Homo sapiens: one gene and its partners. The protein of the gene in region 4 purifies or fractionates together with the protein of the main gene of each other region. This does not show direct contact. Each region holds a gene or a part of one and is shown on either strand. Other genes may lie near its edges.

Evidence for each region.
Region 1: the proteins of TTC4 (region 4) and RASSF8 purify together in Homo sapiens (co-immunoprecipitation; one large-scale study listed by IntAct). This does not show direct contact.
Region 2: the proteins of TTC4 (region 4) and MYBPC1 purify together in Homo sapiens (co-immunoprecipitation; one large-scale study listed by IntAct). This does not show direct contact.
Region 3: the proteins of TTC4 (region 4) and FBP2 purify together in Homo sapiens (co-immunoprecipitation; one large-scale study listed by IntAct). This does not show direct contact.
Region 5: the proteins of TTC4 (region 4) and OBI1 purify together in Homo sapiens (affinity purification with mass spectrometry, with the first as the bait; one large-scale study listed by BioGRID). This does not show direct contact.
Region 6: the proteins of TTC4 (region 4) and NAXD purify together in Homo sapiens (co-immunoprecipitation; one large-scale study listed by IntAct). This does not show direct contact.
Region 7: the proteins of TTC4 (region 4) and GNS fractionate together in Homo sapiens (co-fractionation; one large-scale study listed by BioGRID). This does not show direct contact.

What each region holds. Positions count from the first base shown.
Region 1 is NC_000012.12:25,961,682-25,965,181, forward strand, and holds part of RASSF8 (ras association domain-containing protein 8), read left to right. Parts: intron 1-3,500.
Region 2 is NC_000012.12:101,674,971-101,678,470, forward strand, and holds part of MYBPC1 (myosin-binding protein C, slow-type), read left to right. Parts: intron 1-321; coding exon 322-461; intron 462-2,264; coding exon 2,265-2,424; intron 2,425-3,131; coding exon 3,132-3,268; intron 3,269-3,500. UniProt on the Homo sapiens protein: Thick filament-associated protein located in the crossbridge region of vertebrate striated muscle a bands. Slow skeletal protein that binds to both myosin and actin.
Region 3 is NC_000009.12:94,583,825-94,587,324, forward strand, and holds part of FBP2 (fructose-1,6-bisphosphatase isozyme 2), read right to left. Parts: coding exon 3,483-3,500; intron 846-3,482; coding exon 753-845; intron 1-752.
Region 4 is NC_000001.11:54,718,861-54,722,360, reverse strand, and holds part of TTC4 (tetratricopeptide repeat protein 4), read right to left. Parts: intron 1,199-3,500; coding exon 1,121-1,198; intron 1-1,120.
Region 5 is NC_000013.11:78,617,656-78,621,155, forward strand, and holds part of OBI1 (ORC ubiquitin ligase 1), read right to left. Parts: intron 1-3,500. UniProt on the Homo sapiens protein: E3 ubiquitin ligase essential for DNA replication origin activation during S phase.
Region 6 is NC_000013.11:110,618,545-110,622,044, reverse strand, and holds part of NAXD (ATP-dependent (S)-NAD(P)H-hydrate dehydratase), read right to left. Parts: intron 1-3,500. UniProt on the Homo sapiens protein: Catalyzes the dehydration of the S-form of NAD(P)HX at the expense of ATP, which is converted to ADP.
Region 7 is NC_000012.12:64,752,907-64,756,406, forward strand, and holds part of GNS (N-acetylglucosamine-6-sulfatase precursor), read right to left. Parts: intron 1-3,500. UniProt on the Homo sapiens protein: Hydrolyzes 6-sulfate groups in N-acetyl-d-glucosaminide units of heparin sulfate and keratan sulfate.

The DNA of each region.
Region 1 (3,500 bases), on a different chromosome or scaffold from region 4:
AGAACATCTAATATATATTAGATGTGCCTGGCACATTTCAGCCAATAAATGACAACATCTCAAACTCCTTCAGAATTGAGCTCTTGGTCACTCAAACTTTCAAACTGTTCCCCCTCCATTTTTCATCTCATCCATCCAAGGAGTAGCTCACTCCACTCTCTCTTTTCTTCTATCAGCCCTAGCAAACCAGTCCATCATAAAGTCCTGCTGTCCATTTTTATTGCAAAATCTCTTTCAAACCGGTCTGATTTTCAGTCCCCACTATTCTGCCATCCTAATGCAAGCCACTGTACTGTATTATCTTTTTCCTTGGTGCGGTGCCTCCTGCACACACTCTGCACCCCTTGCAGTCTGTTTTACTACCAGCAGCCTGAAAAAAAAAAGAAAAAGTATTTGCCGTCTTAAAGTTGTCAGGGCTCTCAGGAAACACATTTATTTATTTTTGGGATAAGATACCAAATCCTTGACATTACTTCAGGATCCTGCATGATTTGATCTCTACATCCACTTGCATCTCTTGCTGTCATCTTGGCCAGTTCTCCAGCAGACTAGCCTCAGGCCTGTGGCTCATGCTGTTGGTCTCCCTATTTTAGGATCATCTCCTTGAGTAACTTATCATCCTTGGGTGCTAGCTCAAATGTCCTTTCTCATAAAGGTCTTCTCTGACAAGCCCACCCTTATCGTCATGCGAATTAAATGTCCTTTATTTTCTCCCTCATAGCGTAATCACTTTTGCTTCTGAATATTTACCACAATTTATATATTATTTAATCACTTAGGGTCCTTTTCTTGCCCTTTAGGTTAATATGAAGTTGATAATACCTGGTTTAATCACCAGTGCCCAGTATATGTAGTAGGTGCTCAATAAATATGTTGATATAATGAGTAAGATCGTAATATCAGTTTGTATCTTTATCTTTTTTTTTTGAAATGGAGTCTTACTATGTTGCCCAGTTGGTCTTAAACTCCTGGCCTCAAGTGATCCTCCTGCCTCAGCCTCCTGAGTAGCTGGGACTACAGGTGTGTGCCACCATGCCTGGCTTCTGTATTTGTATCTTGATTGCCTTCTTTATCACTGTTAAATTTGCTTTTCATGATAGAAAAGCCAGACCCACACTTTTCTATATTCCTTCTTTGCTGGTTATATGTATAATATGAAACGGCCTTTGCAAATATCAGGTAAAAATGCATGTAGGTTCTGTGAAATATTCGTAGTAATAAATTGAGACACCTTTTAATTAGTGTTACCCTTGTGACTTTCTGTTGTACATAATCCTTTTTCTAAATACATCATTAAAATAATTATTTTTTTATCAGCATAAGCTTACTGAAAGGAAAAAAAATCTTACTGTGCCTTACTATTTTACAGAGCGTCACATGATAACACGTTAGTCAGCTGCTGTCGGCTGGTGGTGCCAGACATCAAAGGAAGATTGGGAAAACTTTAGTAGAAAAACAAGACCTAGAGTTCTAAGGATGCTCAGTGCTGTCCAGCTGTTGATGTGACTTGCATGGTAACCAGACATCACTGGACCATACACTTAAGAGAGAGGAGGAGTTTTTTTTAAAAAAAGTGGGAGCCACCTAGAAGTCTGGAAGTTCTTTTCTTCTCTCTCACTAAAGCATTCCTTGTTTTAGCCAAAAAAAAAAAAAAAAAAAAAAGTCTCATGACCTTCCAAGGCCAAGGAAGGCTTACAGCTTTGAGTATTTTTGTCATGTGGTTGCTCTTTACGAAATATTAGCTTGATGTCCTCTAACTCTGAAGTACTTATGTCTGTTATTGATGTTTGTAATCTCTACTTCTTACATAATTCTGCATTTTTCTCTTGACTTGTTTTTTAGGACTTTAGTATTCCTTAAAAATCATTTCCTCACACCCTTAGAGTGTAGTTCTAGTTCTTTCTAGTTTTGTATCTTATAGATCACTGAGTGTGTGGGGGCACTTTGGAGCTGATTCAAGTCCTTCAGAACGTACTCCTCTGCAGTCCACCTCGGGGGTTCCCAAACTGTGATCCTTTGAGTGGTCTGGACCCTGAGGTTTCCGTAGCCTGGGTGCTCTTGGGTTGGGAGAGCAAGGAGGATGAAAGCAGCATTTTTGAGCCCCTGTTGGGTGCTCTCGAAGAGGAGGAGTGAGTAGTTTATCTGGTCAGAATTGGAAAAGTGAAGCTTAGGCTTTCTTTCCATATATTTGCTTCACAAAAGAAAATTGTTCCTTTTGTTCCTACATTTCCCCACTCCTGATTTTCTAGTCAGGAAGGCATGAGAAGAGAGAGATGCCCCTGCAAGCCAGACCCTTACCCTGGTGCTTATTTAGACCTGATTTTAAAAATGTTGAGAGCAAGCCCTGAGAGGGGCACACCAGGTGATTTGCCTCGTGTAGGCCCTCTGTGCCTGCAGGACATTCGCATCACGAGTAGCTGCCACTGTGGAGGAGAGGAAAGTTATGGTTGGGAACCCTTGTTATTTTTTTTCCACCATGTATATATGTCCACTGGTTACTTGGGTGACCTTGAACAAGTTGCCTTGAGCTTTTTAACACCAATAATATTTATTACCCATTTATTTCACAGACTTGCTATAGGATTTAGAAAGCTATTCTTAGCAAGTGTTTTTTTTTTTTTTTAAATCACATTCAGATATATCACAAAATATTGCAGTGAACTGTAGGGCTGTCCAAATTTTATGTATGCAGCAAAATATTTTCTTACTCATTAGCATATGTTTTACTCTTTGTTTTAAAAAGAAATCAGATGTAAATGCAGGTTATAACAAGAGGAGAGCTGTGATGGTTTGCTACCAGGTTTTATGTAGGTAATATATTTTGTCACTGTTGTTATATTTGGTCACTGTTGTTAGCTATCATTGGCTCGTGAGTGCTAAATCATGTTTATCCTTATAGTAATTTTACTATTGGAAAATCGCTTAAGACTAAATTATTCTTCCAGATACAAGTATATATGTTTAAAAGAAATTGGGATTCTCTTTAATGGATAGATATTGGGCAGAAAGTAAGGTTTTACCCTTATTTTTGCTTAAAATATTTGAGTGGATTTATAATCGATGAAACTCTACTGTAAAAATACCAGTGAGAAATAGGGATGTTTTGTAATGTTGAAGGTAAAATTTGTTCATTTCTATGGGAAGTTCTAATACGTTAAATGTCAGAATATCTTATAGTAGTTTATTTGTGCTGTATTTTTTCTTTTTAGTGTATAATGACTTCCCTTATATTTCTTTTTTTAAACAGCTTTATTTAATTAATTAATTTATATATTTTTTGAGACGGAGTCTTGCTCTGTCGTCCAGGCTGGAGTGCAGTGGCACGATCTTGGCTCACTGCAAGCTCCGCCTCCCGGGTTCATGCCATTCTCCCGCCTCAGCCTCCTGAGTAGCTGGGACTACAGGTCCCCGCCACCACGCCCAGCTAATTTTTTACATTTTTATTAGAGACAGGATTTACCATGTTAGCCAGGATGGTCTTGATTTCCTGACCTCGTGAT
Region 2 (3,500 bases), on a different chromosome or scaffold from region 4:
TGCTCTAACCAAAGGGGCAACTTCCTGTAACAGCCTCCCTTAAAGGGTCATTCCCTTTAAACTAAGCACTCTTTCCCCACTGGCTAATCCGTTTTGAGTTTTGTTAAGTTGCAGGGAGTGTTGAGGCTGCTCTGTGCCCTTTGATCTGGCCTGGCTCCATACTACTGGAAGGCAAAGGGTCTCAGAAGCCCCCATGGTAGGGTCTAGAAGAGTGATGCCTCCTGTAACAGAGGAAAGGGTCTTTTAAAATATCCTCATGAAACAAAATGTAGACTGGGAAAGAAAGTGACCTTGCAGTGACACCATGAATTCATCCTGTAGACCGTCCAGGTCCACCCCAAATTGTGAAGATTGAGGATGTCTGGGGAGAAAATGTCGCTCTCACATGGACTCCACCAAAGGATGATGGAAATGCTGCTATCACAGGCTATACCATTCAGAAGGCTGACAAGAAGAGCATGGTAAGGTCTGGCTTTCTCTGGTTCATCAGTAGCAAAAGGCACATTTCATCAGAGGTAAAGGAGATGGCACAAGGGCCTCACTGGTAAGGAGCCAACTGGGGCTATGGAGAAGTGATGTGGCAGAGCAGAAAGGAAAAGACCTGTGGAGCCACAGAGCTGGTCTTAAACCCCAGCATTGCTACTTAAGACCACATGTATAAGGACCACACGTGACCACAATCACTTGAGCTCTTTGATCTCTATTTTCCTCATCTATGTAATGGGGGCACAAATATCCCTTGCTTGATTATTACAAAGCTAAAATGATATAAAGCAACTGGTTCAATGTTCAGTAGAATTCAATAAACTCATTCATTCAACAAATATTTGCTCAAGACTTTGACTCAGATTTACACCCATGCAACTCTTTCTCCTTGTGAAATAAATGTTGGATACTGTGCACTTATGTCTACAAAAAAGTAAAAAGACAGACACCAGTTAGAACAGAAAGATTCTACAAGGTTACAGCATGTGCAAATGCGGAAAGGTCTGGAGAAAAAGAGCTTAATGCAAACTTGTCCAACCCGTGGCCCACAGGCCTCATGCAACCCAGGATGGCTTTGAATGCAGCCCAACACATATTTGTAAACTTTCTTAAAACGTTATGAGTTTTTTTATGATTTTTTTTCAGCTCATCAGCTATCGTTAGCGTTAGTCTATTTTATGTGTGGCCCAAGACAATTCTTTTTCCAGGGAAGCCAAAAGATTGAAAACCCCTGGCTTAATGTGTTTAAAAAGCAACCTAGTTGGAGTATGACTTATTATAAACTTATTTTATAGATGAGGAAACTGAGGCTTGCAGAGGATAAATGACTTGCTAAAGATCACCAGATTTTCTCACGCCTGAAATCCCAGCTACTTGGGAGGCTGAGGCAGGAGAATTGCTTGAACTCGGAAGGTGGAGGTTGTAGTGAGCTGAGATTGTGCCACTGTACTGTAGCCAGGATGACAGAACAAGACTCCATCTCAAAAAGAAAAAACAGAACCAAAGTTAATAATATCAGCTGGGAGCAGTGGCTCATACCTGTAGTCCCAGCACTTTGGAAGGCTGAGGCAGGAGGATTGCTTGAGCCCAGGAGTTTGAGACCAGCCTGGACAACATAGGGAGACCTCCTCTCTCTAAAAAATAAATTAGCTGGGTGTGGTAGCACGTGCCTGTAGTCCCAGTTACTCGGGAGGCTGAGGTGAAAGGGTCTATTGAGCCCGGGAGGTCAAGACTATAGTAAGCCAAGATTGCATCACTGCACTCCAGCCTGGGTGACAGAGTGAGATCCTGTCTCAAAAAGAAAAAAAAAATAATAATGTTAAATAAATGTACTGGATATTACTAATGTTTCTCTAGTGATTTAGCTTCAGGTCTTTCTCATAATAAGTTGGCACTAAAATTCTGTAGTTATACTTTATTCTACAAAAGATAGCTAGGAAGACAAATAGGTAGGTAGACAGGTAGATAAATAGATGACAGACACCTAAAGGTTATGAAAAAATATAAAGATAGTAGATGGCAACTAGGGTATATGAATCTAATGTGTAAATGAAGATTAAATTACATAGTCAATTGCAAATAAGTTGTGAAATATTAAACAAAATATACATTGTTTCAACACATTTTAACAACATATATTATTACTCTCCATATAAAAATGAGTGGTCTTTTTTTCTTTTTGTTAATAAAGCATCCTTGTTATTTATCCCAATCTACAGTTAGAAAAATTGTATACTTTTAGGTGATTTTCCTCCAGTTATTATTTTTTTTTCTTTTAGGAATGGTTTACTGTCATTGAGCATTATCATCGAACCAGTGCCACCATTACTGAATTGGTCATAGGGAATGAATATTACTTCCGGGTCTTTTCTGAAAACATGTGTGGCCTCAGTGAGGATGCCACCATGACTAAAGAGAGTGCAGTGATCGCCAGGGATGGTGAGTTGGGAATGGACTGACATTTGAAAACCTTGGTTGACAGTGACCAGACAGAGAAGACTGGAAAAAGAGATGTGGTGAAAGGGAACAAAAAAATGGTAAATGTACATTGTAAAATTATGATAATGGTGTTCAAGTAAAATTTTAATTTTACAGGTAAAATTTAAGTGAAATTGTATTATTATTGCATTTTTTACAAATATAGGCTTTAATTAATTCCAGGTTCTAGGCAGTGGATCTATAAATGGCTAATACCCCAGAGGCTGGAAGAAGTAGACATTTTCTTCTAGAGTTTCTACTTTTATTCTTGGACACCTTTATTGTAGCTACACATGGGACCCACTCTGTGATAAAAGGAGAAACTAAATTCTATCCTTATCTTTTCTTTTCATCATAAACCACTCTTCTTAAAACCTTCCTTGTGTATTTTCACATTAGAACAAATTTCTATTCAAAATACTCAGAAAGACACCAAAGTCTTCTCAATATCTGGTTCAGTTTCAGATGACCCCTCTGGCTTTCTATCCCACGTGTGATTGGCTATACGTTTATACCCCTCAGAATGTTTGCCACATGGCATTTGCTCATCTTTGTCCATGTTTTTCTAAGTTCAGGGAAGTTTTAATCATGTGTAAAGTATGCCACCAATAATATATTCTCAGGCCAATTTACATAATTTTAACATATTTGTAATGCTTGTTTTTAAGGTAAAATCTACAAAAATCCAGTGTATGAAGACTTTGATTTCTCAGAGGCACCCATGTTTACTCAGCCTTTGGTTAACACCTATGCCATAGCTGGTTACAATGCCACCCTAAACTGCAGTGTGAGAGGAAATCCTAAGGTACCATGTTCTTCTATCACATCAGTTAAAGTCCCTGTCTTGTATTTGTTGTGTTATAATGTAAGTAACAATGTAAACAAATCCAGCTGCTACTTGTGTCTTCCCAGGATGGGGGATTAGAAGGTGGTAGTGGTGGTAGATTATTAGGCACACTATTCAGATGTAGTAGTAAAAAATGCTTACATTTCTTTGCTAAGGGATTCCTTCTAAAGAAAAAGCAAACCACCTATTT
Region 3 (3,500 bases), on a different chromosome or scaffold from region 4:
CTAGCCTCAAGGCCTCAAGTGATCCGCCCGCCTCAGCCTCCCAAAGTTCTGGGATTACAGGCGTGAGCCACCGCAGCTGGCGAGGTTGCTATGGATTTTATTGCCGTTGTACACTTTATATAGAATGAAGGACAAGTTTTCTGAATTGTGAAGTTTCTAGTCCTGCTGGATGTCACAAACCCACCCAGCTCTCTGTTGCTAGGATTTCAGGGTAGGCAGAATGGCCCAAAAGATATGCCAGTCCCCAGGATCTGTGAATACCCAGCATTACATGGCAACAAAGACTTTTCAGGTGTACTCAGGGGTTCAGATTTCAAATAGGGAGATCACCGTGGACCTTCCAGGTTAGATTAGTTCAATCTAATCCAATGAGCGTTAGCAGAAAACTTTCTGTGGCTGGGGACAGGAGAGATGAGGCAAGAGGGGGAGAGGATGTCAGAGATTCAGAATGCCACCTGGAACCTAATGCCATGTCTGACATTTGTGTTGCACCCAGACTTTCAAAACAAGATCTCAGCTGTCCTTCTGTGTTACCCTCCCAGGAATGCCAGAAAGTAGGCAGAGAAAGAATCGCCAATCCAGTTCTTCTAATGAGGAGCCCCAGGCAGAGAAAAGTTGGTGGTTTGCCTACAGTGGCTTTTCTCGTTAGTGGGAAGACAAAGGGTAGGACTCCAAACACACGGTTTTCAGCCCAGGAACCTTCCAGAGACCACCACAGGAAGGAGGTGTAAAATGTCAGCCTGTCTACTCACCTTTCTATAGATGGCAAAGATGGTTCCGATGGAGGCCAGGCAGTCAATATTGGAAGATCCATCCAGTGGGTCAAAGCAGACCACGTATTTCCCCTAAATCAGAGAGGAAAGCACCAACTGATCAGCACATCTTCCCATTAGCACAATTGCTCTGTGTCAGGGCTGTGCGTGGCAGAGTACACCACATCAAAAAGAGATTGAGAACCACAGCATATCTTTATCAAAAAACACCATGACTTACGGAGGGCAGGGTGCCAGTTTATACACAAATACTCCTCTGGGTTTTGTATCCATCTCACCTGTCTGATGCGAAGACCAGAAGATAAAGTGGGTGTGTCTTGAGAGACCAACGTCCCCCACACCCACCCACTCTGCTGTCACAGGCAGCTCAAGCCACCAAGGGAAGCCCCAGGTCCTTTTTATAGCCCCCTGTGTGCAAGGTCACGAGAGACCCTTAGTGATGGCGACCGGAACCCCCAGGCCAATTAAACACGGGTAATGCAACTTCAAGAGAAATGAGGGTCATTTCTCCCTCCACTTGATTTAGTTTTCCCTGACTTTCCAATGAGTATTGGCCTAGCTTCATTTGAGCTTTGTTTCTGTTTTTTTTCCTTGCTCAGCCAGAGTAGAAAAGTTAGATAATTTGTAAACTTGGAAATTCCCCAACATCTCTATAATAATCCAATTTTTTAAAAAAAAATCCAATTTAGCCCATTCATTCATGCATGCATGCATTCAGCAGATACATGTTGAGCTTCCAGCATATGCTGGGAAGTAAGTGTTCAAGGCCCTGGGGTTTGTTTCCGGGGGGTCAGCGATCCCGGCAGCAAGGCTGGATTTCATGGCACTGACATTCCAGTGGGAGAACAGACAGAGAGCACACAGGTCAGGACACATACAAGCAGGCTGTGGCACGTGCCCTAACGAAAACCCACATAGGCTGGGGGCTGGAGAGCCATGAGGGGGGGTCACATTTGATGACAGACCTGACTAGAATTAAGGAATGAAGAAACACACAGAGACCTAGAAAGCAAAATTGTTTGTTTTCTTGTTTTTGTTTTGTTTTGACAGAGTCTCACTCTGTTGCCCAGGATGGAGTGCAGTGGTGTGGTCAGAGCTCGCTGCAGCCTAGAGATCCTGGGCTCAAGCAATCCTCCCACCTCAGACTCCCAAGTAGCTGGGACTACAGGTGCACACCACCATGCCGAGCTAAATTTTTATCTTTTGTATCTTTATGTTGCCTAGGCTGGTCTCAAACTCCTGAGCTCAAGCAATTCTCCCACCTCAGACTCCCGAGTAGCTGGGACTACAGGTGCACACCACCATGCCGAGCTAAATTTTTATCTTTTGTATCTTTATGTTGCCTAGGCTGGTCTCAAACTCCTGAGCTCAAGCAATCCTCCCACCTCAGCCTCCCAAAGCACCGGGATTGCAGGCGTGAGCCACCGCGCCCATCCTAGAAAGAAGAATTTTCGACAGAGAGATCAGCAGGTTTGGAGTATTCAAGAGCTGCCACGGGCCAGGCATGGTGGCTCACGCCTGTAATCCCAGCACTTTGGGAGCCTGAGGCGGGTGGATCACCTGAGGTCAGAGTTCAAGACCAGCCTGGCCAACATGGCGAAACCCCGTCTCTACTAAAAACACAAAAATTAGCGGGGCATGGTGGCGCATGCCTGTAATCCCAGCTACTCAGGAGGCTGAGGCGGGAGAATTGCTTGAACCCGGGAGGCAGAGGTTACAGTGAGCTGAGATTGCGCCATTGCACTCCAGCCTGTCCAGCCGGGCAGTAGAGCAAGACTCCGTCTCAAAAAAATAAATAAATAAGTAAATAAATAAATAAAGGAACTGACATGAAGACCTATGTGGCTATGTGGCTTAGGCCAATAGGAGAAGACAATGGTAGATCAGACTGGAGAGAGAAACAAGAGTCATATCAACTGAAACTGAAAGTTGGAAGTAATAGTGTGATGTAGCTAAAATTATGTGAGACGAGGGCAAAAGTGCCTTTTGCAGTACCTGGCATAGAGCAGAGGTTAAATAAATTTGGCTTTACTTTAAATTCTTTTCCATTCCTCCAGCTAATCACAAAGAAATGGCCTCTTGTCTATTGACTATATTGCAGCTGAACATTGATTGAAACTTTTGGCCATTGGCAAACCTCTCTGTATAATAAGCTGTGTGTGAACCCATAGTGAATGCAGACCCTCCCCAGCCGTGCCTTCCTTCACCGACTTCACCATCCTACGAGGTAAGAGCACAGGAGGCTTGTGGTTTTGTTTCTGGACCAGTCTAACAGCTTGTCAGGCACTAAGAAATCTCTGCTGAAACTGTAACCCCTCGCAAAGTGCCGGCTGGGGGCGGGGGTGGAATGAGAAGGCGGGGCGGTGAGAGGCTGTACAGTACAGCTCTTCCCTGGACTCCACAAGGTTAAGCCCCCAAAAATTTGGCTCTTGTTACTGATTAAGTGAACAGCCACGAACAAGCGCCCACTGAGGCGGTTCCTGCATCACTCTGAACAATTTCCTGAATGAATCACTGTCCTACTGTGGAGTCTTCTTTCTCTAGACAGCACAAGATTTCCAAGTAGAGAAGTATGTAATCCTTTGTTTCCAGAAAACAAATGTTAAGAAATAGAGGAGAATCCCGGGAATTAAAGAAAAGTAAGGCAGCTTATTTCCGGCTCAGTATCATCATCTACTGGCGAGCGGGCACCGCAGCCCCATGACGCACCCGCTTCTCCTTGGCGGT
Region 4 (3,500 bases):
GCTAGACCTTAGACAAAGGACCAAGCATATCCAAGCTTTAGGTTCCTCATCTGCAAACAGGAAGAATAAAGTCCATCCCAGATGATTTTTTCAATGGAGGGAAAAAGCAGACTTTGCTTCAGCTATTCATCAAGGCAGTGGCAAGGCCAAAAACATTAGGTGTCTCCTAATTTTGTTCTTTATGGCTACCAGTTTAAGCTGCCTCTCCCCCATCAAAAAAAAAAAAAAAAATTTCATGTTATCATGTACATTTTTCTCCAGTTAGCCTCTTTAGGTTTTCCACAGAATTTCAAAATATAAGCATTGTAAGGGCTTAGATGCCAACAGATTCTAACCCCATCTTCTAGAGATGAGCAAACTGATATTCAAAGTGGGTGTCTTGCCAAGGTCACATTGTAAATTAAACCAACAACTGAATCAAGGATTACACACTTCTAGCCTGAGGCAAATTCCACAGGATTACCTAGATTCAATTTATCAGCCAATCTTTGTTCAGTACCTTCTTTTCCTACAGCTGAGGGACATGGATCTTCCTACTGCCCTTAACCATGAACATTTAAAGAGGCATAATTTTGAAAAAGCATTTTAAGCTGGTCCATGGGGATGCAGGGAAGATTAATATGTGATGAATAAATTAAAGTTTGCAAAGCACCTATGAGCTTCTCAAAGAAAAGGTGAAGTATAAAAGTAATAAAAGCACTGTTATTACATAGAAAGGTCAGACTACAAGAGAAAACATAATCTGAGAACATCTCAGCACCAAAGTCATCAGCAAAGGTCCCATAACTTATCTTTTAATTAACATTAACATGGCATTTGAAGACCTTGCCTTTCAATCAGCTAATTTGGAAAAAAAATCAGAATATGGCTTTGCAACTGCTTTGTTTTAATTAATTTTATTTTTTATTAATTTAAAATGAGGGGCTTCTAGTTCTCTACAAATTATTATTACATAAAGGGTTAAGTCACTCTCTGAGGAATTCTTTTAAAAGTGGCATGTTGCTGTTGATAAGGAACAGGAACTTAATACCCAGACTGCAAAAATAAGATGACTTTATTAGTATCCTAGCACCTTCATATCAAAGCTTTAAATGTCATACTGTAGTTCCACAAGACTTACCTCTTATTATTGCTTTGAGGTGGCAGGGTTTTAGCTTTCTGGCAGCTGTCACATCATTGAGAGCAGAACGAAAATTGCCTAACAAAACACCGTTTAGTAAAAGAGAGAAGTTTTGAGATCAAAATGTTTCCAAAATTTTATATGTAGTGACAAAGACACTCTTGTACAATCCTGGGGAAATACAAATGAGAGCAACTGTTTTTTTGAAAAAATATGGTTGTACTTGTCAAGAGCCTTAGAAATGTCTATAACAGGCAATCTACAGAACTGTAAATGGCTAGTAAGCACATGAAAAGACGTTCAACATCACTAATGATTAGGAAATTAAAATTAAGAAATTGCTAAAAGTTAGACAAATAATATCTAGTATTAGAAAAGATATGGAAAAGGGGTACTCTCAGGGTAAATTAGAAAGCAAATTAGCATGTATTTTGTACATATACTTTGACACAACAATTTTCTTCTGGAAAATTATCAAAAATACTTGAACAAATGTGCAGGGATAAATGTAAAAGCATGTTAACTACAGCATTACTTTAATTGTGAAAAGCTGGAGATAACTCAAATATCCTCAATTTGGTAATGATTACATGAATTATGGTAAATCCATACTATTGAATACTATGCAGCCATTAAAAAGAATGAGATAGATCCTCATGTAAGAAACACGGTAGGATGTCTGTTCTATATTGTTTTAAGTGGTGGTTCTATGAGTATAGAGGAAGCCTATTTAAAAAAAAAAAAAAACTAAATATCTAGACACACATGTATATATTTGTAAGTGCATTAAAAAAAAAAAAAAAGTATGCAGTCACACACATACCAGTTATCCAAACTAGCAAGCCATGAGGTATACTTTAACTTTCTGGAGTATACTATAATTATTACTTAATGGTTTAGTATTTACCTAAATCTCTAGCCCAGGGGTCAGCAAAATATTTTGTAAAGGGCCAGATAAATATTTTAGGTGTTGCAGGCCACATGTGGTCTACTGCACATTCTTCTTCATTTTATTACAATTCTTGAAAAATGTAAGAAACCTCTGGGGAGGTGGCTCACTCCTGCAATCCCAGCACTATGGGAGACCGAGGTGAGAGGATTGCTTAAGACCAGGAGTTCAAGACCAGCCTGGGCAATATAGCAAGACTCTCTCTCTACAAAAAATTTTTTAAAAATTAGCTGGGCATGGTGGTACATGCCTATAGTTCTACCTACTCGGGAGGCAGAAGTGGGAGAATTGCTTGAGCCCAGGAGTCTAAGATTGCACTATGCTATGATCACAGCTAGTACACTCCAGCCTGAACAGAGTAAGACCCTGTCACTTTAAAAAAAAAAAAAAAAAAAGTATGGAACATTTTTAGTTCATGGCAAGCCAAGGGGCCAGGGGTGGACTCTGAGTCCTAGTTTGCCAAATCGTGCTTTAGCCTAATGAATAATCAGAATTATCAGAAAAATATTATGACTTTATTTATTTTTGCATTATTTATAAAAACCAAAAAACAGTCTATATACTCAACAATAGCAGACTAATAAAGCAAACAGTATAAATAGTGGCATGTCCATATGATGCAACTTTAGCTATTGAAATAACATTCAGAAATGATTTTTAATGACGGTGAAATTGTTTGTTATAAAATTAAGTGAAAAAACTGAATATCAAACTGGAAGAACAGCAGGATCTCAACCATGGAAAAAAATGCACATGAAAGGGATCCAAGGACTTTTAGTTAAAGGAGGCAGATTGAACACATACATTTAACTCAATCCCCACTCTCTCTCCCATAAAGACAAAGAAAATGAGAAGAACACAGAACACATTGTGAAAGCTGGAAAACAAAGGAACAAGTAACTGATGTATCAGGCTTAAGGAAACTGAATTCTAAACCAGTAGAGGGAAAGCACAAAAGCTACCAAGCTGCACTGCAGAAACTACAAAGTACTCAGGACTCAGGAACTGATGGCACCAGGTACCTCTGGAAGTGGGGGTGAAGGTGGGTTGAAAATCTACTTAAGAAGCAGTCAGAGTCCCATATTCCTTACCCCTCTGCTGCACCAGTGACCTACTCCTCCCCTGTTCCTCCAGGTGGAGGACTGGAGGTTTACCCTAGCAGACAATAAAACAGTAGGTCTCTGGACTGGAACCCCCAGGCACAAAGGTGATTCAGTAAAGGAAATATTAAAGATTGAGCCCTTGGTCCTCTTCTCCTACTTGGTTCCCAAAGTACCAGCAGCCAGGATTTCCAAAAAGAGAAAAAAGAGTAAAAAAGAAAAAGAAAAATATCAAAGCATTCAGGAAAATGTCCTAGAAACATGAGTTTCCAGACTGAAAAGGTCCACTGAGTACACAGCACATTGGGAGACCAAGGCAGGTGGATCACTT
Region 5 (3,500 bases), on a different chromosome or scaffold from region 4:
GGCCCTTTCAATTATAGCCACCCTTGATCTGAAGCTTTTCTGTGGCTTTTCAGAGCACTGGCCTTTAATTTATGTCAGCACTACTTATTTTTGGCATTTTACAGCTGTGTGGGACATCTATCTCATTTCTTTCAACTTTGAAATATGAAGTCAGTGCTTGTGATTCCAATATACTAGGCAAAAAAAAAAATTTTTTTGTACACTTTCTGAAAGAGAACATTTTGGAGAGTGACTGAAAAAGAATTCCCTTATTCACAAAAAGTCTACTCCTTTTACACCGGGATTATCTTGCTGTTATTTCCACCAAGAATGAGTACTGTGTTAAGCTCAGGAAACAATTTTTGAGTACCTAGTATAGGTTAGGTGGTATATTTGGGGCTGGGAACACAAAAGATAAAAAAGACTGTCTAGCTCCAAGGGACATAAAATATCTACCTTAAATTCAATCTTATCACCAAAAATAAATTCTATCTTTCAGGAAACTTATGAGCCAATAAATAACATAATCCCGTGAAAAATACCTTATCTCCTCCAAAATTCTTTTCAAAGCCTATTCTTAATCATCTTTTTGATGATTTATATATTGGCCCATTTCTAAGAATTAAGGGATTGTCTGTTTGGAGGAAGCTATGAGAAGGTGACTTTCAAAAATTATTTTTATCTTTGGGTTTATCTTTTTCTTCCTTTTTTCCCCTAATTTGAAAAATAATTACAATTAAGAACATGTATTTAGTATTGAAAAAAAAAACTACAAAAAAAGCAGAAGCCAATAGCAATTGCCCCTCTTAGAATCAACCACAACATGTTTTCAACTCCCACTTAATGCCCATCACCTCCTAAACCACTAGCCCAATTCATTCCCCATCTCAACCCCTACATAATCCCTGCACTCTTATCACTGAAGGAAAAAGCAGAGGCAAAGGTAAATATAGAATCATAAAATCTCAAGATTAGAAAGGGCTTTAAAAGACATGATTGCTGAATATTGATTTACTCACTGCAATTAACTGAACCCCCAGAGAGAGCACGCTCCCTTCAACTTCTAAAAAAACACAGCAAAAACCACAGGTATAACAAAAACAAAAGCAACTATAATAACAAGCCTCCCCATTTTAAAGACAAAGTTTACTACTGTATTTGGTTAAATGAATGATGGGAATTTTTCTTCTTTGTTAAAAATGTTTTGGCTTATAAATGTAGTACTTCACAGAGTTGTAGTTCTGCAAGAGAACTTTTAAAAAGTGGGCAAAGACCTTTCAGTACATTAAGTACAAATGTTTGTTAGTTCTTGATTGTAACTACTCTGGCATAATCAAATAACCCACATTTTTAAATGGAAAAACTGTAGTATGTTTATTTAATGCCAATAAGCAAAAGTGACAGCCTTACATTTGCTTATCAAGATAAATTTCTTCAAGTAAAATTTTTTATAATAAAGGTATCTCCTCAGATAAAAAAATCAAATGACTTAAAATCAAATAATGCTACTACATAGTAAGTCAGTTGCTACCAAAGGATATCTTTGGGAACTTAGAGGCCTACACACAGAAAGACTACTCAAAAATAAAGAATGCTTCCCAAAATATTACCAGCTTCTTGTTCCAGGGTTTTAGCTTGGAATTTCAAATATAGTATCATCTTAAGATACTGTATTTGCCTCTCTCTCTCTATATATTTTTTTTTTTTAGAAATTATGTTTTTAAAAGAAGTAACATATGGTTTGGAGTTGAAGTCAATGAGAGCCCTAAACATAATTTTTGTGTTATTTCAGAGAGAAGTAACAAAGGCCAGTAGCAGATCACATATGAGAGGCACAAGCAAGCAGAAGTCACTGATGGAGTTAGGCTGTTTTCTAAAAGGCCACTGCCCCCAATTTCCTTAAGTTTCCTTTCAATACTCTATAAATCTATAATACTTTCAGTGATCAGGCCCTTCTCCCATGCTAATAAGGGACCTGTGCTGGTTGGCAGACTGACAGAAATGTATACTAAAAGCCATGCAACTGATCAATTAATCAATTCATGTAATTTATTTGCTTTCTTTCTCCCACGTTAGAATAGAAGCTCAAGGAGAGCAGGTAGTTTGTCTTATATTCACTGCCAGATTCCTAGAACAATTCCTGGTATACGGCACTTGCCTGTTGTGTATTTCTTGAATAAAAGTCATTCTCTTACTTTAAGATACACTAGTGCCTTACATTGAGACAGGGTTGACACCACAGGATAAGCTAAAGGTCCTTGGCCTTCTTTTTACATGTTAAGTATTATGACAGTCACTGTATTACTAAAGTAAACATGTTTTGTTTACTACATTTGACTGTTTACTTTATTTCACTGACACCCAGGAAAGCAACAGAGACTGACATATGTACAGTACAGCCTTTTTTGCTACAGGCTTGACATTCTATACTGCTCCACCCCAAAAAACTTCACCTTAGTAAGACTGCAAATAGATGAGACTTTTGACATGTGTCAGGAAATTTTCAGCTTATCCAAGATAACTATATTAAATTTGGCAAAGGGCAATTTACCTTATTATAGAGAAATAACAATTAGGGATAAGTATCTGATGCTATACTTCCATAGAAGAAGGACATGAGCTTATTTATCTTTGGGTTTTAATACTTTTGTATTCACACTAATTCTAGATATTTGGAGTATACAACACTAAATGAAGCTATGCCAAGGCAAGCCGGAGGGATTTCTAATATCATTTACCATACTTCCTCCTTTTCTTGAGTAAATTTCAAAATGGAGTATTTTTATAAACATTCCATTAGAGACCAAAAGGCTTTGATTTTCAAAGTAGCAGTGATGGCCAAAGGCTTCATTGTGCCAGAAAAAACACTGCAGAGCAGTTTGGGAGCTACAATTGATATCGGAACTGTATTCTGCCAGAATCTAACAGAAGCTTAAAGGATTTTTCAGCTTGCAATATTAACTGATACATACATTCTGGATGAGAGAGAAAAGGATGCCAGTTCCCCTTGTCCAAATAGCTCTAAGAGATACAAGATCATTTCTGTCCCTAGTAAAAGAGAAATGGAAGTCCTATTGGTATGACCTTTGAGGTGGTATAACTAAACTAAAGAGCATCTCTAACAACAAAAAGTTCCTAAGACCATATTTTCTCATAGTCTATCACACAGAAAAACAGGACGTGTTTGAAGAAAACAAATGTGGTAAAAGAATACCACACCTGAGTACCAAAAAACTAATAAGCTCTAGTGCTACGCTACTATCCTTGAGCAATTCACTTTGCCTTTCTGGTTCTCAATGGCAATTCCAACAAAATGGGTAAATGCAGCAAGCCCAGTGGGTGGCCAAGACTGCCAAAATTCAGAAATGCCTTCTTGAGGAGGAACAAGGGGGACATTGGGGAAGTCAGTCCACTTGCCTCATCAAACTTTGACTTTATATGTTTCCCTCACTTGGTAGCTGAGGTAATGAAACAAAGCGAAAGCTATCTTTGGACCTGGACCAGCTTTTGTGGTGTGGCCT
Region 6 (3,500 bases), on a different chromosome or scaffold from region 4:
TTTTTTTTCTTTTTTGAGACGAACTCTGACTCTGTCACCCAGGCTGGAGTGCAGTGGCGTGATCTCAGCTCACTGCAACCTCTGCCTCCCAGGTTCAAGCAATTCTCCTGCCTCAGCCTCCTGAGCAGCTGGGATTATAGGTGTCTACTACCACACCTGGCTAATTTTTGTATTTTCAGTAGAGATAGGGTTTCATCATGTTGGCCATGCTGGTCTAGAACTCCTGACCTCAAGTGATCTGCCAGCTGCAGCCTCTCAAAGTGCTGGGATTACAGGCGTGAACCACCATGCCCAGCCTGAACACATGTAATTAACACATATAGTAACACATGCTATTTATTTATTTATTTGAGACAGAGTCTAGCTCTGTCACCCAAGCTGGAGTGCAGTGGCACGATCCTGCTCACTGCAACCTCCACCTCCTGGGTTCAAGCGATTCTCCTGCCTCAGCCTCCGGAGTATCTGGGATTACAGGCACCTGCCACCCTGCCCTGCTAATTTTTGTATTCTTAGTAGAGACAGGGTTTCACCATGTTGGCCAGGCTGGTCTCCAACTCCTTACCTCAAGTGATCTGCCCGCCTCAGCCTCCCAAAGTGCTGGGATTACAGGCATGAGCCACCCCACCAGGACAACATATGCTATTTCTATCAGGTTTATTTTTGAAATGTATCTGAAATTTTGGAAGACCATTTAATTTTCCAGAAAGTTTTATCAAGTAAAAAAATGCATTATTACTTAATAAACTATCACTTCATTTCAATTTCCCTTTAGGATTATTAGGTCTTTTCTCTCCTCACAAACTGGAAAGCAAGCTCCCACCTGTAATCCGCTGGGGTGCTCAGAAGTCTGACAGATTCATCATATTACTCCCAACTGTATTCCAACACTCAACTGGGTATTAATTAAATAACCTAGAAATGGCATTCTAAATATGGCACACCTCTTAAATTGGGTTCAAAGTGGCATTTAATGTATTTTCATCATCTTGAGTTGTCTCTAAACAGCTACACTTCAATTGGCCTTTCTTGAAGAGCTTCCTGTGTTATATATTTTACCTTAATATTTAAAACAGCTCGGCTATGAGAGAAATGCTGGTATGTTCTATAGAGCTCAATGAATAAAGCATACATTCTCCCTAGAATGAAAGGATCTTTGCAAATATAAACAGTATTTTTTCAAACAAGGCACTCAATATTTTTATCCTTCCAATTATCTCAGCAGCAGAGAAAAACCAGTGTCACAAGTTCCACTGACTGCAGTCCAAAGCTCACTGAGCGTTTCACAGCAAAAGAGCTTTGTCTTTTAACTCTTACAGTTTTACTTTTTACTCAACAAAACTTTTGAAGGAATTTTCTTTATGAGTAGATGTAACTGCCTTAGCTGATAGAGCAGATGCTGGGATTCCCCAAGATAAAAAGATCCTATGAATCCCCATCAACCCAAATTCTTTTTTTTTTTTTTTTTTGAGACAGAGTCTCACTCTGTCGCCAGGCTGGAGTGCAGTGGTACAATCTCGGCTCACTGCAACCTACGACCCCCTGGTCCAAGCAATTCTCCTGCGTCAGCCTCCTGAGTAGCTGGGACTACAGGCGCATGCCACCACGCCCAGCTAATTTTTGTATTTTTAGCAGAGACGGGGTTTCACCATGTTGGCCAGGGTGGTCTCGATCTCCTGACCTTGTGATCTGCCCACCTCGGCCTCCCAAAGTGCTAGGATTACAGGTGTGAGCCACCGCGCTCAGCCCAACCCCAAATCTTTTCACCTTCTTCCAGACCAACACACAAGACCCGGCACAGAATCACTATAAACTGTGGGCCAAGGAGAGACACAATGAAGCTTGCTGAGCTACCTGCAGGGGACCAATGCACCCATCCTTGAAATCCCTCCAGGAGGGCTAAATTATGGTTTTAAAACAATACACTTGTCTAGAAGAGACATTTATGGGGCCAGGCGCAGTGGCTCCCCGCTGTAATCTCAGCACTTTGGGAGGCCAAGGTGGGTGGATCACTTGAGGTCAGGAGTTCGAGACCAGCCTGGCCAACATAGTGAAACCCCATCTCTACTAAAAATACAAAAATTAGTTGGGCACGGTGGTGCATGCCTGTAATTCCAGCTACTCGGGAGGCTGAGGCAGAAGAACTGTTTGAACCCAGAAGGTGGAGGCTGCAGTGAGCCAAGATTATGCCACTGCACTCCAGCCTGGGTGACACAGCGAGACTCTTGTCTCAAAAAAAAAGACATTTATGGGTATCGATCAGCATCCTGTCTTTGTCGTGGGGAGCTGTTCTATGCACTGAAGGATGCTGAGCAGCATCCCCGGCTTCTACCCAGTCAGCAGTGCATGTACACGCACCCAGTGGTGACAACCAGCAATATCTCAACACTCCCAAATGTCTTCTGGATGGGGCAAAATGAGCCTGGGTTAAGAACCACTAGTAGAGATGCATGCGTGTAGTTTTAGCACCTTTAAATATACCAGTACTTCAAATTAAATATTTAAGGTCATATAAAATATAAATTGTGACTTATGAAATCACAGAGAAAAACAATTTAGTCAGACTTCAACTTACGGATGTTAAAAATCAACATTTATATCAATGTACCCTGCCTGATGAAAACAACTCCTAAATGGTAATACTTCATAAATGTGTATTTCTCACAATAAGAAAAGGAATAAAATGGTTCCACCAGATAATACTGTATATTTTCCAGGAGGCTTCTTTCTCCCAATATCCAAGATTCATATCTTACAAACATCTGTATCTTAAATTTCAGATTTAAGTCTTAAAAAAAGTACTATAGGTGAGGTATGAAATATTTAATGTTTATATCAAAAAGGGCAAATACCATAAACCCACACTGAACTACCCATTTGCACTTTGCCTCATAGTTGAAATAACCTATACATTACCGGAAAGGATCTGACACAAAATTAAGCTGCAGCCACGAGTCCAGGTGGAGCACCTGTCAGGTGGAGGGGAGCACCAATGCCCCTCTGCAACCAGTGTCGCCCAGCACTCCCAGGAGGGCACAGCAGGGCCGCCTCGGGGTCACAACTGCAGCACCAGAGCTCCCAGGGATGCTGTGTTCCAAGTGCTTGTCCTCTCCGCATCTGCTCCCCAGAGCGGAAAAGCTTCCCTTCTGCGTCACACTCTGCTGAAAGTCCTCCCAGTACTTTTGGTACTGGGATAGCACCTTTCTGATCTTTTTGGTTGAGAAAGAGGAGATATGCTAGTCCAGGCAAGGATACGCTTAAAACCTACAGGCTTTAAAGCTAATACTGATTTTTGTTGTTATTCAAATAATGACAAGAACACATACAATTTTTCCTGCACTTCAAGGTAAGCTTTGTTAAAATGATAAGATATCAGGGGGCTCAAACATCGAATACAATATACGAATAAGGGCCACTTTCTAAGGCGGATTTTTCTACAGCAGGTTAAGCATTAAAGTCCCATTTACCACAAGCCAAAAATATCAATTCTGAGTGTGTAAAAC
Region 7 (3,500 bases), on a different chromosome or scaffold from region 4:
TAGAGACAAGTTTGGTTCCGGCCAGCTCCATCCTGTATAAAAGTGCAGGAAGTCAAAATGCTTGCAGGAAGGGAAAGTTCAGTTGATGGCAATAACATCTTTGTGCCCTTATTAGTCATCAGCGCCCAGATAAGGCAGATAGGGCAGACCTATCTCCATGAATTAATCTTTAGAAGTAGGATGTGGGAAATGATATAAAGGGAGCCTTCCGCCCTATAGAACAGAAGTAAGACAACAGTTGGATTCTGAAAGCCAGACAAGGCCCCAGGACTCCGAGACTGATTCAAACCTCACACACTCAGTGGTGGAGGCCAGACACACACTGTTCAACTACCAACTACTGTTGTCTGCATAGACCCACAAGCACCTCAGGATAAGGACTTGAACCAGGTGGCAAGCAGGTGTACACAGAACACTGTCAGGCAAAAGGCTACTCAGAAACTATTTTATGTCCTGCTTTTCATCTTTTGTTCAAAATCTAAGATCCTTACAAGTACAGAGAACAATTAACTTCCTTCTAGAATGAGGACAAAAGTATGAAGACAGTCATTTAAATACGAATAAAAGGAACACTAATATTCTTCAGATTCCAGACAGCAAAAAGCACCATTGAAGAGGTCATTTTAGTTGTAATATGGGTCAGTTCACGATGATTCTGAGATACCTTTGAAACCTAAGACCATATTGAATGCAGTTTTAAGTATATTTTGTTGTGCAATAATTCCTTAAAGATTGCTAATCTAAATACATAAGTAGGTTAACAGGAGCCTCATTTTCAATAATGTATAAATGACTTTTCCCCATTGTTTTATATAAATACAAAACCTACGGAATCCATAAACTCAAAAGGATGAGGATTCTAACTTATCCAAAAAAAGCTCTGATAATTTCATGAGTAGATCCAGAAGAGGCTGCCAAGAGACGCTAGAGAAGCAGAAGATCTTCGCCAGCCTTCCGAAGCAAGGTCGTCAGCCATACTCTCCTCAAAGCATCACTGGGTACCATCCTCAGGAAAAGAATACTGGGCTTCATGAGACATTGGTTTGATAAAACACCTGAGTTACTGTGAGGACATTTGAAGGTGAAATGAGGATTCAAAGAGTAAGTGGAGAAAAGGACCAGAGTTGACTGTATGGGACTTAATTGTCAAACTGTCTGATAAATATGTAAAATTATGAAAGAATATCTGATTTACAGTAAGACTGTGTAATAACATTTATTAAACACAACACGTGCCAGGCATTAATCTAGGCAGTGGTGGACAGAGGATAGATGGTCCTCGCCCTCATGATCTCTGCACTCTTGGGGACTTAAAACAACTAACAGGTAAACAATCAGTCATTTCAGGTGGTGGTAAGTGCTATGAAGAGAATAAACCAGGATGATGTGATTACAGCTGGTGGGAAGAAAGGGGAACTACTTTAGATGGGTGGTCAGAAAAGGCCTCTCAGGAGGTAACTTCAGTACGGAGAGCCATGCGATGAGGAGTCAGTCATGCAAAAATTCAGAAGATGTTTCAGGCTGGGTATATAGCAAGTACAAGGGCTGCCAGAGGAAGGAGAGAGGCACCTGGGAGGAAACAGAGAAGCCAGTGTGGTGATGGAAGCAGCTTAGGGAGGAAAAGGGAGAGTGAGGTAAGATGAGGTCAGAGAGGCAGGCAGGAGTCAGTGATGCAGGGCCACATAGGAATTTAGACTTTAGGCCCGGTGCAGTGGCTCACACCTGTTATCCCAGCACTTTAGAAGGCAGAGGCAGGAGGACTGCTTGAGGCCAGGAGTTTGAGACCAGTCTGGGCAACACAGCAAGACCCTGGCTCTACAAAAAATATAAAAATTAGCTGGGCATGGTAGTGCATGCCCGTAGTCCCAGCTACTTAAGAGGCTGAGGTGGGAGGATTGTTTGTGCCCAGAAGTTCGAGGCTGCAGTGAGCTATGACTGCACCACTGCAATCTAGCCTAGGCAAGAAGAGTGAGAACTTGTCTCCAAAAAAAAAAAAAAGAAGTTTTTATTAACTGCCATCTTTATACTGCTAACTATAGTACAAAAGACAACCATAATCCGTGCTTAATTGAAAAAGTCCCAAACAAGAAACCACACTACTCAAAATGTGTCATGTGTCTCTATGCTAATTAGAATGTAAAATGAATCCTTAAGATCGAAGCAAAGACAGTGGCTGGTCAAGTTAAGGCCATGCAACAGTCTTTAAGCAGCAGCCAACTTCATGCCTTCATGTGGGCAAACATGTTACTCTACTCACCCCAAGCAGAACCCTTTTCATTAAAACCCTAAAGAATCATTTACTTTCCTGGTTCCATGCACAGTTGCTCTGAAACGACAATTCTGATAATTCTGTGGCTAACAATGGAAATTGTTTTGCTTTCAGTGAAGCAATGACATATTTATTCTCACACCTGTAATCCCACCCCTTTGGGAGGCTGAAGTGGGCGGATCACTTGAGGTCAAGAGTTCAAGATCAGCCTGGCCAACATGGTGAAATCCCGTCTCTACTAGAAATACAAAAATTAGCCGGGCGTGGTGGTGGGTGCCTGTAAACCCAGCTACTTGGGAGGCTGAGACAGGGGAATCTCTTGAACTCAGGAGAAGGAGGTTGCAGTGGGCCGAGATCGCGCCACTGCACTCCAGCCTGGGTGACAGAGCAAGACTCCAACTCAAAAAAAAAAAAAAAATTATTCTTCCCCTACCTTTCATCATAGTTTCTTCTTTCACTTGCCTGTGGTTTTGGCCAAATGTCACTTTTCTTAGAGTAAATGATTTTTTTTTTTTTTTTTTGAGATGGAGTCTTGCTCTGTCACCCAGGCTAGAGTGCGGTGGCACAATCTCAGCTCACTGCAACCTCCACCTCCTGGGTTCAAGTGATTCTCCCACCTCAGCCTCCCGAGTAGCTGGGACTACAGGCACGCACCACCATGCCCGGCCAATTTTTGTATTTTAGGGTTTCGCCATGCTGGCCAGGCTGGTCCTGAACTCCTGACCTCGTGATCTGTCCACCTCGGCCTCCCAAAGTGCTAGGATTACAGGCGTGAGCCACCGCGCCCGGCCATGAATTATTTTTAAAAGAGCAGCTTATGCTTCTGTGAAGAACAGTGTGTCCACCACACTATAATGATGTTTAAATAAAATCAAGAAAGTGATAAGAACAGTGTCCTGGCAAAATAAAAAATAAAAACAGAGTCCCACAGATACCTGGAACAAATACAATGAAATGTTAAAGACGATGCTACTATATAAAAGAGCATTTCAAAGATGCCTGAAAAATTCCACTATAAATCTAAATCATGTTGTAAATGCTATATACAATCCTTTGACCTGAGTGAGATTGGTGGGGGTTAACCACTATTTATTTTGCCAACTATGGCAGCAATCTGTAATCTTTTTTAGGTTAGAGCTCTTTCCACAAAAATGAAGATATTATACACAAAGTTTTACATGTAAATTAAGGAGTTCCATGATGTCACTGGCATCCCCGAATGTCACCTGCA